2 linked regions of the Homo sapiens genome follow. The protein of the gene in region 2 interacts with the protein of the main gene of each other region in a biochemical or structural test. Each region holds a gene or a part of one and is shown on either strand. Other genes may lie near its edges.

The links. Proteins that work in one complex are often made in the same cells at the same time.
Region 1: the proteins of NFE2L1 (region 2) and MAFG form a complex in vitro, tested with the Homo sapiens proteins (2 studies listed by BioGRID and IntAct, with this or other methods).

What each region holds. Positions count from the first base shown.
Region 1 is NC_000017.11:81,917,769-81,924,754, reverse strand, and holds the end of MAFG (transcription factor MafG), read left to right. Parts: exon of another isoform or gene 1-987; intron 988-1,288; exon of another isoform or gene 1,289-1,402; intron 1,403-1,522; exon of another isoform or gene 1,523-1,540; 5' UTR 1,541-1,569; coding exon 1,570-1,605; exon of another isoform or gene 1,606-1,697; coding exon 1,698-2,150; 3' UTR 2,151-6,485; downstream 6,486-6,986. Other genes in the region: SIRT7 (NAD-dependent protein deacetylase sirtuin-7), read left to right, coding at 6,624-6,716, 6,788-6,925. UniProt on the Homo sapiens protein: Since they lack a putative transactivation domain, the small Mafs behave as transcriptional repressors when they dimerize among themselves.
Region 2 is NC_000017.11:48,043,795-48,051,358, forward strand, and holds the start of NFE2L1 (endoplasmic reticulum membrane sensor NFE2L1), read left to right. Parts: upstream 1-4,564; 5' UTR 4,565-4,668; intron 4,669-4,986; exon of another isoform or gene 4,987-5,070; intron 5,071-6,812; 5' UTR 6,813-7,324; coding exon 7,325-7,564.

The DNA.
Region 1 (6,986 bases), about 34 Mb from region 2:
CGTGTAGGAAAGGGCTCCTGTGGGCCTTCTGACCTCCAGCTCAGGTCTTCCCCATCCTTTATCTGGAAGAATCCAGTGGCTGGAGCCTCGGGACCTTGCCTCTGAGCTGGCTTGGCTGTGGGGAGGGGTCTCTGGCCTCCCCTCCCTGCTCTGTGCTTGCAGCCTCACCTCCTGGTCCCAGGCTGGGTGAGGTGGAGTCTTGAGCCTGGTGAGGATGTGTGCATCCGCCTGGCCACACTTCAGCTCCCCTGATGAGAGTAAGAAGCCCCCCAGCCCATAATTTCCTGAAGTGATCCTAGCTCCTCTGGAGGAGTCTCCCATCTGTCTGCATCAAACCTGGAAAGTGGGGGATGGAGCATGAGGCGGGGGTCCATGCCCAAGGGTCTGGTGGGAGCTGGGCTGAGCTGGGAATCCCAGAAACATCCTTAGCAAGAAAGTGAGAGCAGAGTGCTGGAGGGACCCCGAGTGGGGAAGAGTTGGTTGTTAAGTCCGGCCACCCCAGCACTTTTGTTTTTGCTCCCTGGCCCTGTGGGCACTCACCCGGGGCAGGGACCAGAGAGCAGGCTGCAGCTCGGAGGGGCTGACTCCGCCAGCCTTCACGTTGGGCAGGCCCGGGGTGGCTCACTGTGGGAGCCCTTGTGAAATACCCTGGATGGGGTGGGGCAGGGGCTGCTTCCTGCAACCCAAAGCCACAGGATGGTTACTCCATCAGTGGAGGAGGCCGACTGGGAGGTCTAGAGGGGCCTCGGGCCAGGCTCCTCCCAGCTGATGGCCTGCCACCTGGAAGGTGGGGGAACTCCCTGGTCAGTCCTGCCAACAGACCAGAGCTAGATGGACGGCCCACCCCCAGCTTTTCAAAGTTAGGAGGCTGGGAGACTCGGGGTTCCCTGTAGCCTCCTCTCTGGCCAGGTCCCCCGTGGGGCCCCTGTGCACCCAGGGAGCAGGGGGCTTTGTCCGAGGCCGGCTCAGGGGAGGTGGCTGTAGAAGGTAGGACCCTGGAAGATGCACACACAGGGTCACTGGCTGGCCCTCACCTGCTATTGGCCAGGCTGGGGGCTGCGGCTCTCGTGGGGCGCTGTTGGCTGGCGGGCCAGGGAGTGCGGGCGCGGCGGGGAGGCAGAGGCAATGTGCTGAGTCAGCGTGACTCGCCAGGAACAGCCGCGCTCTGGGCAGTGCCGGGGTTATTTTTAAAGCTCCCGGCTTCCTTCTAGGCCTGCCTCTCCCGCGTCTTATTCCTTCTAATCTCTCCCCTGCCCCTTGTCTTGCGCCTGCCTTCCTAACAGCCTTCAGTTCCCCTTCTCCCGTCAGACCTTCCTGACCTCCCACCTGGTTCTCTAGGGGCAGGGTGGACAGGAAGCAGCTCAGCCCAGCCTGGGAGAGGCCAAGGGCTGCCTCCTATCAGGTATTGGGGGCTGGGCACCTGGACAGCAGGCTGGGGCGGGCTGTGCGGCAAGGGCTCTTGTGAACTGGGCCGGGGGCGGGGGGGGGGGGGTGCGGCGAGGGTGGTCTCCAGGGTACTGACCTGCTCCGTGTCTTGCAGAGAGCGCCTGCTCGCTGTGCCCCCGGGTTATGACGACCCCCAATAAAGGAAACAAGGCCTTGAAGGTGAGTGGGCAGGGACAGGAGCCTGTGGGCTGGGGTCGGGGGGCACAGTGGGCGTGCCCGCTTGGCCTGTGACCACCTGCACTGTGCCCCAGGTGAAGCGGGAGCCGGGTGAGAATGGCACCAGCCTGACGGATGAGGAGCTGGTGACCATGTCGGTGCGGGAGCTGAACCAGCACCTGCGGGGCCTGTCCAAGGAGGAGATCGTCCAGCTGAAGCAGCGCCGGCGCACGCTCAAGAACCGCGGCTACGCTGCCAGCTGCCGCGTGAAGCGGGTGACGCAGAAGGAGGAGCTGGAGAAGCAGAAGGCGGAGCTGCAGCAGGAGGTGGAGAAGCTGGCCTCAGAGAACGCCAGCATGAAGCTGGAGCTCGACGCGCTGCGCTCCAAGTACGAGGCGCTGCAGACCTTCGCCCGGACGGTGGCCCGCAGCCCCGTGGCGCCAGCCCGGGGCCCCCTTGCCGCCGGCCTGGGGCCCCTCGTCCCAGGCAAGGTGGCCGCCACCAGCGTCATCACAATAGTAAAGTCCAAGACGGATGCCCGATCGTAGGGACGCGCGTCTGCCCAGGCGGGTCTTTGCGGGGCCACTAGGCACATGGCGAATTTGGCTGCCCTGTCCCTCTGTTTCCTTCTCTTCTCTTTCCTCCCTCTCTTCCCCACCCTTCTCTCTTCCCTGCAAAGCACAACCTGTACCCCAGGGGCGCCGGGCTGAGCCCCTTTGATCTCGTCATTGTCGTCGTGTGTTTTGTATGTTGGGATTGGTCAGTTCGGCGGTGACGTGGGGTCGCCCCAACCCCTTTTGTACCAGGGCCATGCAGGCTTGGAGTCCAGAGTTGGTGCTGTGGGAACGGACTAGAGAGAGTTGCGGGAGAGAGAAGGAGCAGGCACGCTGGGCCTCGCGTGTCCCCGAGCAGTGAGGGTCCCAGTGTTCCCTCCACTCCCGAGTGGCCACAGGCTCGCGGGCTGGGAAGGATTCACTCTCTTTAGCCCCAGGGGAGCAGCTCAGCTTAGCCCAGCATGAAGAGATGGGCTCTGCTCTGAGAGTAGGGCGGGCTTGAAGGCCCTGATGGGTGGACCACCAGCCTGGGCGCAGTGGTGCTGGGGGCGTGCAGCTGGGCCCAGGGGCTGTGCACTCAGGCCTGACCCGTTGCACTGAACAAGACCAAATCTCTGGTTGTGCGCTTAACGTGAGGGTGGGTCCAGTGTGCCCTGCGATGGGTCCCGTGTCACTGTTTACATGACCTATTTGTGTGGTTATATAGCCCTTTATTTAAAAGAGAGAAGTTCCTTTTACAAAGTTATTAAATTAATTATATGTTTAAAAGTTAAAGAAAAAAGAGCTGCAGAGTATTTATAAAACTGTCTTTTAGAAAAAAAACAAGCAAGAAGACCATTTGACCATATGAATGGAAAAGGGAAGAAAGTATAATAGAAACTTTGCTAGTTAAAAAAAAAAGAAAAAAAAAGAAAAAAAATCCCTTTCTTGTAAACTTACGGACACCTCTTTGTGGCTGTTGGAGTTTAGTTTTTATATACACAGAGTTATCAGACATTATTTATAAAACTTAGTTTAAAAAAAAGACAAAAAAAAAAAAGCCAAGCCGTGAGCCGACCAGAAGGCCGTCCTCTTTGATATCTTTTGCAATTGTACCGAAAGTGACTTACTCCTCTGCCCTTCCTGCTTCCGTCTCTTGCCGGTGCCGTGGTGTCGTCCGTGCCTGGTGAGGTTTTGTGCAGCGGTAAAGTGCTGGTGCTTCTGGTGACCTTTGACCTGTGGGTGTCACTTCTTGTGTCTGTTTTCCCGTGTTCGTTTTTTGGGTTTAGTTGTGCTTTTGCTTCTGCTGGCTTGCTGGACCTGGGCTGGGGTGCCAAGTGGCGCCTGCTGCGTCAGAGCTCAAGGAATCTGTGCCCACCACCAGCTCCTGGTCCGTAGGAGGTGAGACATGGGGTTCTGTCATGCCCCCCTCCACTGAGCCTTGGCTACATCTGTGTCTAGGGCTTGGGCTGATCTAGTGGCGGGGTAGGTGAAACTGGGGTCCCTTGGGGCGCCCCACGCTGCTTCCACACCCACCACCTCTGGCCTTGGGTGGTGGCATTACAGGGATGAGGGAGTCACTGTGGGTGGCCACAGGGCTATGGCCAAGCGTTCCCTGGCCGTCTTCCTCTGGCCTCAGCTTTGTTCCTATAGGCTGCCCGCGCCGTGGGCTGCAGGTCTCGCCGCCCGCTTGATCCCTGAGGTGTTTCCATGCTGCGGGTGGTGCTTCCAGGCAGAGTGGGTGGGGGCCCACCGGGCACCGCCCTTTCTTCCTTGTCCCTGCCTCACTCTGAGAGCCTTGGGGGTCTCCACCAGTGCAGACAAGGGCTACAGTCTCCAGGGCCGGGTCTTGTCCCTCTTCTCCGCTGGTCCACGCTGGCAGCTCTTGGCTTCGGGCCTGCCTTCTGCCTCCCTTTGGGATCTGTGTCTTCCAGGGATCAGCTGCTTGGCTTCTGCTGGAGGTGCCTCCCTGTGGGGGCGCAGCCTGCCTCCTGCTCTCAGTTCCTCGCCAGAGGCTGCTGCCCTTCCTGGCTGGGCTCAGGAGGCTCCTTGTAGGCATATGATGGGGAGGGGGTGCCCCTACCCACCTCCAAGAGGCTACAGCCCTGTGTCTGGCCATGTGAGCCCTGGCCTTTCACCGGGTTGCTGGTTTCTTTTCTGTGGGGCCCAGACTTCTGTAAAGCACACAGATGTGGGTAAGATGAAAAACTGTGGCCCAACAGGGCTTAACCCTATGGATGGTGGGATTTTTATCCAATAGTTTGGCCTGGTGTGCCCACAGGATGGGAACAGGGAGGCACCATCAACACTTGTCATGTTAATGAGCTTTTCTTTGCTCGAGGTGTTCAGAGACAAGTCCTGTGTCTACCTGCGTCAGCCTGAAAATGGAAATATTGGCTGTTGACTCTTGTCATTTAGTGACTTCATCCCCCTCCCCTCAGTCTGATCTTGTCTAAGTAGAATCCAGGCGTTAGTTGGAATCATATCATAAGTATCCATGAAGAAAACGTCATGATCTGCCTCGGAGTGGGGAGAAACAGGCCCTCCTTGTCCTTGTGCAGCCCCCACTTTTGTCCTGGCTGTGGGTGGCCATCCATTTTGAGCACCTCTGCCAGGCTGCAGACCTGGAGGCGAAGGGAGTGTGGAAGAGGAGGGTGTAAGGGTCGACGCGTGCTGAATGGGAGGTGCAGGTCCTCGGTGCGTTGGCAGAAGAGGCTTCTGGAGTTTCGAGGCCATACCTCCTTTCAAGAGCTTTGGATTTGGGGCGACTTCCCTGGGTCTAGGGGAGTGTTCCTGTCCCCTGTCAGGTCAGCCCTGCGGAGCCACTCCACCCCTCTTCCCCTTCCCCTGGATTTCCTGACATAGATGGTGTGTTCATGTGCAGGTGTGAGTGTGCTGTCCTTCTGATCTCTGTTGATCCCGCTTTCCTACTGAGAGGGTGGTGGAGAGGGTGGTGGTCTCTTCTCACCTCAGTTTTTCTGACACAGCGAATCGAGGGCTTTGGCCAAGGCCAGGTCTCTCAAACTTGTCCGCCAAGTAAACCATGATATATGTCTTCCCTTCCACCTTAACTTTGCCCCAACTCCTCTTTTATCCTAACATGGACGCTCAGATTTCAGAGGAATACCCAGCAGGGACAGGTCAGCTCTCACCAGGAGAGTGAGGCCCCTGGCTGCTGCTCGGGGTGGCACTGGTGTTGCTGGCTCAGCTCTTGGTGCATGTTTCAGATATGTGTGTACACTTCTGACTGGTGATCAGGGCCCGGCCCACGGCCCTGAGCGGCTGCAGCCTGCTTTGGGACGATGGTCAGGTCCCATGTTGTCCCTGCTGCCTCCCTCTGGAGTGGCCACTTGGCCAAAGCGCCCATCCACATCTGGAAAGTCGGAGCCGCAGCCTGCTGCACCGTTTCCGCTCTGGGATCTTGTGAGTTACTTTTTTAGGCTGTGGTTTGGTGAAAGGAACCAACACATTAACGATTTTTCCCCCAGAAGCCACTGAATAATTCTTTTTGGTGTATTTTTGCCTTCCTGTTGGCTGTCTGGCCTTGGAGCAGGTCGGGAGAGTAGAGTACATAATCAGTGCCACACAGAGGCAGGGCGTGTCTGAGAGACTAATGCCTGTCCTGCCTCTGGCCTGTGTCCTGGGTGTGTACCATACCTGCTGGGCCAGTCCCACACATTTCCACCCTGCCCCTGGAGCAGCAGCTTTGATACCATGGGTGTCCCTTGAGTCTGAGCTAGAGTGTGTCCCCGATAAACTGTGAGACCTCCCTGTTCTTGGTGACCCCAGTTGGGCTTTGGCCCCTCCAGCAACCTTGTGTCCCAGCCCTGCCCTTCTTCCCACCCCCTCAATCTGCTAGTCCCTGAAGCCTTTAACCAAACGGGAGTGGGCACAGAAAGCCTTCTCCTGGCAACAGGACAAGGGCTGCCCGCGTGTCCAGCCCTGTTGCTCTCCTGGCGCTGAGAGGTGGGTCCAAGCAGAGTTGATCAGTCCCTGCCTGCCCTGCCTAGGTCTAGCCAGGGGAGGTTGTGTGTGTGGGAGAAGACCCCGGGATCTGCTGGGGTGGGATGGAGGTTATTAAAGATCTAAGTGAGGAGGGGCTGGGGTTTGGATGCGGGGTGAGGCCCGAGCGCTCACACTTCGTGTAGGGCGGGCAGGGGCCTGACCTCTTGCAGGGCAGTGGCCTTGGTGCCCTACCCCTGCCCTGCGCAGTATTTATTGCTAAATTATTGTCCAGGAGGGGCAGCACTGGGCCTGGCCCCCCGGGTATTTATTGCTGTACATAGTGTATGTTTGTGATATATAAGGTTTTCTTTATTTTGTATATGATCAATAAACCTTTTAAAGAGACTGGCAGGTGCTTCTTTGGGGCGACGCGGCGGGCGGAGCCGGAAGGGGTGGGTGGGGGCGGGGCCCATCTTGCGCATGCGCCCTGAGCGCGGCCTGCCGTGTGAGGCGGAAGCGGAAGAGCAGGTCTCCAGGGGAGCGATGGCAGCCGGGGGTCTGAGCCGCTCCGAGCGCAAAGCGGCGGAGCGGGTCCGGAGGTTGCGGGAGGAGCAGCAGAGGGAGCGCCTCCGCCAGGTACGCCGCCGCCGCTCCCCGGCCCGGCCATGCCCGGCCCGCGCCGCCGCTCACCGTCCGCCTGCCCGCAGGTGTCGCGCATCCTGAGGAAGGCGGCGGCGGAGCGCAGCGCCGAGGAGGGCCGGCTGCTGGCCGAGAGCGCGGACCTGGTAACGGAGCTGCAGGGCCGGAGCCGGCGGCGCGAGGGCCTGAAGCGGCGGCAGGAGGAGGCGAGTTCCGCGTGCGGCGCGCGGGCGCCCCCGGTTTCGGGAGCAGCTGGGGCGACGGGCG
Region 2 (7,564 bases):
AGCCAGATTTTCGAACCCACCTATGAGTCCAAAACATCCACTCCTCCTACCTCTTAATGGCAGCTCCTTGAGTGTGACATGTCACACAGAGCTATATGAAGAACACTACCTGGTATTGTTTGAGACAACATAGCAAGACATACAGGACAGTTGAACTCAGCTTCAAAAAATGTTACACTAAGACACTAATGAACAATGAGGCATTTTCATTGTAGAGGTGAAGAAAGAACATTTTAGGGTTGAGAATGAGCACACCCTAAAAGTCAAACGGGCCGGGTGCAGTGGCTCACGCCTGTAATCCCAGCACTTTGGGAGGCTGAGGTGGGCAGATCACTTGAGGTCAGGAGTTTGAGACCAGCCTGGCCAACATGGCAAAACCCTGTCTCTACTAAAAATACAAAAATTAGCCAAGCGTGGTGGTGTGCACCTTTAATACCAGCCACTCAGGAGGCTGAAGCAGGAGAATCGCTTGAACTGGGGAGGCAGAGGTTGCAGTGAGCTGAGATGGTGTCACTGCACTCCAGCCTGGACCACAGAGCGACTCCATCTCAAAAAAAAAAGTCAGATAATCATTCTAGTCTGTGTTCCCGTATTACCACAATCTTTTGCTTTTTTTTTTTTTTTTTTTTTTTTACCCCAATGTGGATTCTTGCTCCAACCTAGTGATTCTCTACTCTGGCTGTGCATAAGAATCACCTGAAGAGCTTTTACAAAATACTGATGTCCAATTCTGCTCTGGGCAGCTGTTTTAATTGGTGTGGGGTGGGACCTGGGCATTGGTATTTCTTACGAGCTACCCACCTGGGTGATTCTAATATGCAGCCAGGATTGAGAAGCAATCTTCTAAGAGTGTGGTAGTGGTGCATAGGAAAGAGGCTGGCTTGCAGGAGAGCTTTACTTTTTGGTGGTTTAATGGTAACAAGCTTGCTGATGATGTTTACCATATAAGAGAGAGGGCCATATGTCCGGATTTGCCAGAAAACTAATTGATTTCTTTGCAAAACATGCTAACATTTAGTATTGACATGATGTATTCCTACCATCTCTCAGGACTGTAAGGAAATCTCAGGCAATCATCTATCTAATCTATTCCCCTGGATTAGATGAGGTTACAGAGTAAGAAATACTTATATGGATTAGCAAAACTTAAAGACATGTTTTTCTTTTTATTATTTTTTTTGAGACAGGGTCTTACTCTGTTGCCCAGACTGGAGTGCAATGGCGCAATCACAGCTTACTGCACCCTCAACCTCCCCAGGATCGGGTGATCTTTCCACCTCAGCCTCCCCACTAGCTAGGACTACAGGCATGAACCACCACGCCTGGCTAATTTTTGTATTTTTTTTGTAGAGATGGGTTTTCACTATGTTGGCCAGGCTGGTCTCAAACTCCTGGCTCAAGTGATCTGCCCACCTGGGCCTCTCGAAGTGCTGGGGTTACAGGTGTGAGCCACTGTGCCTGGCCTTAGAGACATTTTTAGAGGAAAGATAATGGACAACCAGAATGGCAGAAAGCCTGGGTTTCCCTTTTAGGGAAAAAGCAATTTCACTGTTCCAGAAGAAATCAGAGCCCCAGCCAGCCTGCCCTCCCACAGCCCCTTCTCTGAGGATTCCTGGCATGTGTCATCCTCCAGGGATGACTGCAGGATGGATGTGGCTGTTGGCGGCAGCAGCAGCTTTTCCTACCAGGGAAGCTGGGTCGGTAGACACTACACTGCTATTCCTGGGGTGGGGGTGGGGATTTCCGTGTATGTTTTATAGTTAGCTGGCCCCAAATCCGTGTGCTTTAGACCTAACCCTCTTCTCGGCTTCCACTGCCTTCTTCTCTCTCCTGCCCAGCCTGGAGTCGCAGGGGCAAGGCCTAGTTTTACAATGGCTGCCAGCCTTTCCCTTAGGGAGCCACATGCATGCGCTCACTTTTTCCAGTGGTCTTCTCAGTCTGATTTAATGGATATACCGGGACTGATGACACATCAGCATGGGATCCTTCTTTTGCTTCTTGGGTAACTGTCCTATTAACAGCTGTCCCAGGCAAAGGGAGGGGGAGAGTGTTGGGGGAAAGGAGGGGGTGGCTTCCTGGGTGAAGAAGGACACACCCTGGGTTTTACAAGGTTAATCAGCAGGTTCTGGGAAAGCTTGCACCTGCTCAGACTTGATCTGGAACTCTAGACAGAATGGAAGACAGTCTTTCTGTCTCCACTCCCTTCCATGGAGCATCAAATATCCTGGGCGCCCACACCCTGCCAGGCCTAGGCCTGCTGTTGCGACTGAGTTTGTCTCTACACCTTTACTCTCTTCGGCCCTTGCAACTCTTTCCCTTTTTCTGCCCACCTTTGTGAAATGGCTAAGCAGGAAACTCCACAGATAAACGATTGTCCAGTTTTAGTTTGAACTGTTAGGACTGAAAATTGTTCTGTATTTTTCTGTCAAAAAAAGACCAACTTTAGTATGCTCTTTTCACCTTCTCAAAATTGTCTTGTAGTTAAACACTGTAGTTGAGCCTTTATATCTCTCAATTTTATGTTTTGTTTTGTTGAGGAAGCATCTCACTGTTGCCCAGACTGGCACCATCATAGCTCACTGCAGCCTCAATCTCCCAGCTCAAGAAATCCTCCCACCTCAGCCTCCTGAGTAGTTGGGACTATAGATGTGTGGCACCAAGCCCAGCTTGTTTTTTTGTAGCGACGGGGGTCTCACTATGCTGCCCAGGCTGGTCAAGCAATCCTCCCGCCTCGGCCTCCCAAGGTGCTACTGTGAGCCACTGCGCCGGGCCCAGTTCTATGTTTAAAATACTTCCTTCTCAACCTTATTTATTTTTAGAGTTGATGGCCACACCTAAATATTCCTCCTTTCTTATACAATACCAGTCTTTATCTTCATTGTCTCACTACTTCGGGGACTGAATGGTCTCCTATTTTATTGTTAACATGCCATATCCTTCAAAACTGTACATCCTCCAAGGTGTGGTTAATTTCTGCTTTTAACAGGAAAATCAGAGGCCTGCCTGCTTGAGTCCCCCTTCAAGTACTCAGTATTTGAGTGTCTACTAAGTTATAACAGTTAACGCACAAAATTCTAGTCCTCATGTTGTTTATACTCAGGTATTTATTGGGAGACACGCGTCAGTAGTCCCTGATAAATGGAAAGATCGCTTGAGTCCAGGAGTTCCAGTCCAGCCTAGAATAGGTAAAACATGCTCTCTGAATTAGTCTTTGAAACTGGTAAACTAGCTCAGAAGTTTTTTTAAGAATTCCATGAGTGGTTTGCTGGTGTACGTTTATTATATGCAGTGAAAGTACTTAATCTGCAAACCACCCCAAATTAAGCCCCTAACTCGCAAGCACAAAATGGACTCGATTATTTACTGAGTTATCAGTTGGCCTTGTCCTTAGTTGTACAGGGACTAATGACTCACCTATAAATAATGGGCTCTTCTAAGAAGACACAGTTGAGTTGACACCTCTTTGTCCTATAGCTGGGAGGAACGCATTGCAAACGCCAACCCAATGATTCCCTAAATGGGGTCTTCGCATCAGCTGCGTTAAAATCACCCCAGCAGGCAGGTTATCCGGCCGCCACTCCAGGGTCATTAAATCAGACTCTCCAGTGGGACCTCGGAATTCGTAGCTTAGCAAGCTCCCCAAGTGATGCTGGGAGTAAACTAACGTTTGAGAGTCACAAACATGTTTTGGCAATATAACCAGATGGGACTGGAGAAATTAAAAAATGAGAAACATCCCTAAAAAAGCAAGACTAAGCTGCGTGGGAGGCCAAACGAGGGGGGTCCTTTGGGCTGTTTCTACCATGACAAAAATCGCCATTACCCCACACCTCTCACACCGCCAACGTTCCGCCAACGTTCCGCCAACGTCCCACCACCCTCATGATATCCGTCCGCGGTACTGCTCCAGCGAAGGTACCCTTGCCTGGGCCATGAGGCGCAACCGTCCCTCACAGCTGGGGTGGCTTCTCCAGGTTCGCACCGAGGGGAAGTTGGGGTACCGGTTTCCGCCGCCAGCACCCAAGATGGCGGCACGAGCGTCGCAACCACAAGAACCACATGCTTCGTGTCCCGCCTCAGCATTCTCGGGTCTCACTAGACTTTTGCAAGTCACTGTGGGAACCCTCAAGGCGAGGGTGTTCCGCACTCTGGCGGCGATACACCTTCCTATTCCCTGACCTAGGCCTTCATTCCCCCGCCACAGAAAGCGCTGGAAGCGCCCAACCTGGATACTTCACCCAACGCCCAAGCCCACTAACATCGCCCGCCGCGAAGGCGCGGCCGAGGGGCCCAGAATGCCAGACACTAGGGCCTTCGCCCTCCTCATTGGTGGGTCCATACCGCGGGGCGGGCCTAGGTACTCATTGGGCCGGGAATTATGTCAGTCTTGGGAAATCAGGTCCGGGGATGAGGAGGTACACTCAGCCATTGGGCCCTCTCTGCTGCCAATCAGAGGGACATCCGTCGACGGCCCCGGCCTCGGCTCGTTGATTGGAGAAACTGTTCCTAGGGTGTTTGCGGCGGGCGGGTTTCCGAGTGCGGTAGCAGGAGGGGGCGGGGAGGTAAGCGGAGGCTCCGAGCTCTAGGCCGGCCGGCGGTGGCGGCGGCGAGGCCGGGACTCGGGCTTAGGGCCTGCTGTGGAGGCAGCGGCGGACGCCGAGCTAAGCAGTGGGTATCGGGCACATTCCTTTCCCAGAAGGGAGGGTTGCAGCGCCGCGGGGCCGAGGCTTATGGGGCGACGGGATGGTGCTGAGGTGCAGGAGGCGGGGGCCGAGCGGGGTTCCCGCCAGAGCCCGGCCCTGGGCCTGACAGGGAGGGGCCCCGCGCGGGGCCGAGAGGAAAGCTGGCTCCGGGGTGGGATGGACTGGGCAGGGTTGAGGGCACGAGAAGGCGTGGTGTGAGGCCTGGACTTGGGAGTGGGGTGGGGCCATCGGGACGGAGGGCGGGGTGGGGTTTGCTGTAAGGGTGGGTCAAGGCCAGGGAAGTAGCACTTGTTCGCTGGCCGCCCCTGGAGGCTAGAAGCTCCGGCGCCGAGAGTGGGCATGGCGACTTGGTCTCAGCCGGACTCGGGTATCCGGGCAGGGTGGGACCAGCCTCAGGCTATGGGCCCTGCACCTACTTGATTTTTAAGGGACTTTGTCCGGTTCCTCGAACTTAATTGGCTCCTGGGAGGTTTTAGTAATAAATTGCGTGAGAACGGGAGGGTAGCGTAAGCAGGAATTCTGGGTCGCAATTGTGTTTACTCTGACCAGAGAGAGGGAGTGTGAGTGTGTGTGTGTGCGCACGTTCGTGTGTGTACGTATAGCTCGCTCTCCCCCTGTAGAATGAAGTTGGTAGATGGGTCACAACGCAGGAGAGGAGAGGCGGTATGTCTTGGTTTGTGACATTAATGGAAGCTCAAAAGTGGAGACCAGAAACAGATTTACTTCCTCTGCACTGGGCAGTCTGGCTAGAGAACGTGGCCATATCCTTCTGCTTTGGCTCAGAAGGTCATATGAATGAAAATAAAACCTGCCTATGCAAATTCTGGACGGAATAGTCCTGCGTAGTAGGGCCCCCACCATCCCTCTCCTTTTTTTCTTTCCTTTTCTTTTCTTTCTTTTTTTTCTTTTTTTGAGACGGAGTTTTGCTCTTGTTGCCCAGGCTGGAGTGCAGTGGCGCGATATCGGCCCACCACAACCTCCGTTTCCTGGGTTCAAGCGATTCTCCTGTCTCAGCCTCCCGAGTAGCTGGGATTACAGGCATGCGCCACCACGCCCGGCTAATTTTTGTATTTTTAGTTGAGATGGGGTTTCTCCATGTTGTTCAGGCTGGTCTCAAACTCCCGACCTCGGGTGATCCGCCCTCCTCGGCCTCCCGAAGTGCTGGGATTACAGGCGTCGGCCCTTTTCCTTTTTTTTCTTTTGTAAGTTGTGAGGATAGGAAAGGGAAATCAGATTTCAAAGTTCAGAAAACAAAAGGCATTCTTCTTCTGGGTGAAGTGGTGGCCTGAACATTGTCCTTTTGTCCTTCCACACTCTCACTGTTTAATAATCTTGCCTTTTTGAACTGAGAAAAGACAACTGTTATGGGTGGTTTTCTCCCGAGGGGTGAAAATCCAGCTTTACTTTTAAGACAGGAAATGGGCTTCTCATGTGAAAATAGAAGCTGGGTAATGCGCCTGTAGTGGGGGAGGAGGGCTGGTAAATAAAACAAAGGTGTAAGATATTTTGGATGACCTGGTTATTGTCTGCTTATTCAAACCAAGCTACATTTTAGGATATTGCACATTTAATATTCAGTAACTGAGATCATTCGTGATCAGTAGCTTTCTTTGATAGTTCTTCTATGATCGGTTGCTATATTTTGGGTTTTTTTTCTGAGAGTGTAAGTAGTCCTTTCTTCCTGTAAAAGTGGCCTTTAGGCCAGGCACAGTGGCTCACGCCTGTGATCCCAGCACTTTGGGGGGCCGAGGCGGGCAGATCACCTGAGGTCAGGAGCTTGAGACCAGCCTGGCCAACATAGTGAAACCCCATCTCTACTAAAAATACAAAAATTAGCAGGGCGTGGTGGCAGGCGCCTGTAATCCCAGATACTTGGGAGGCTGAGGCAGGAGAATCGCTTGAATGCAGAAGGTGGAGGTTGCAGTGAGCACAGATCACGCCACTGCACTCTAGCCTGGGCGACAGAGTGAGACTCTGTCTCAAAAAAAAAAAAAGTGAAAGTGTCCTTTGAATGTGTTTTCTACCTTCTACTGTGAAGGTTTTCCTACCCTGATCATGATGTGAAAAGTATGGAATCTTATCCTGTTGCTTTTGTGATTCCCATTTCAGGTTTCTCTGGAAACCCCCCTGGTAAGTGTGGAGGAGGCGGGACACTCTGACCCAAGACGAAAGGCCTGTAGCTCCAGCCAAAGAAAATAAACCTTAGGAGGGAGAAGGAAAAAAAAAATCCATCAGCTGTTCCTGAGAACAGCCTGCATTGGAATCTACAGAGAGGACAACTAATGTGAGTGAGGAAGTGACTGTATGTGGACTGTGGAGAAAGTAAGTCACGTGGGCCCTTGAGGACCTGGACTGGGTTAGGAACAGTTGTACTTTCAGAGGTGAGGTGTCGAGAAGGGAAAGTGAATGTGGTCTGGAGTGTGTCCTTGGCCTTGGCTCCACAGGGTGTGCTTTCCTCTGGGGCCGTCAGGGAGCTCATCCCTTGTGTTCTGCCAGGGTGGGGTACGGGGTTTGACACTGAGGAGGGTAACCTGCTGGCTGGAGCGGCAGAGCAGTGGCCTTGATTTGTCTTTTGGAAGATTTTAAAAACCAAAAAGCATAAACATTCTGGTCCTTCAGCAATGCTTTCTCTGAAGAAATACTTAACGGAAGGACTTCTCCAGTTCACCATTCTGCTGAGTTTGATTGGGGTACGGGTGGACGTGGATACTTACCTGACCTCACAGCTTCCCCCACTCCGGGAGATCATCCTGGGGCCCAGTTCTGCCTATACTCAGACCCAGTTCCACAACCTGAGGAATACCTTGGATGGCTATGGTATCCACCCCAAGAGCATAGACCTGGACAATTACTTCACTGCC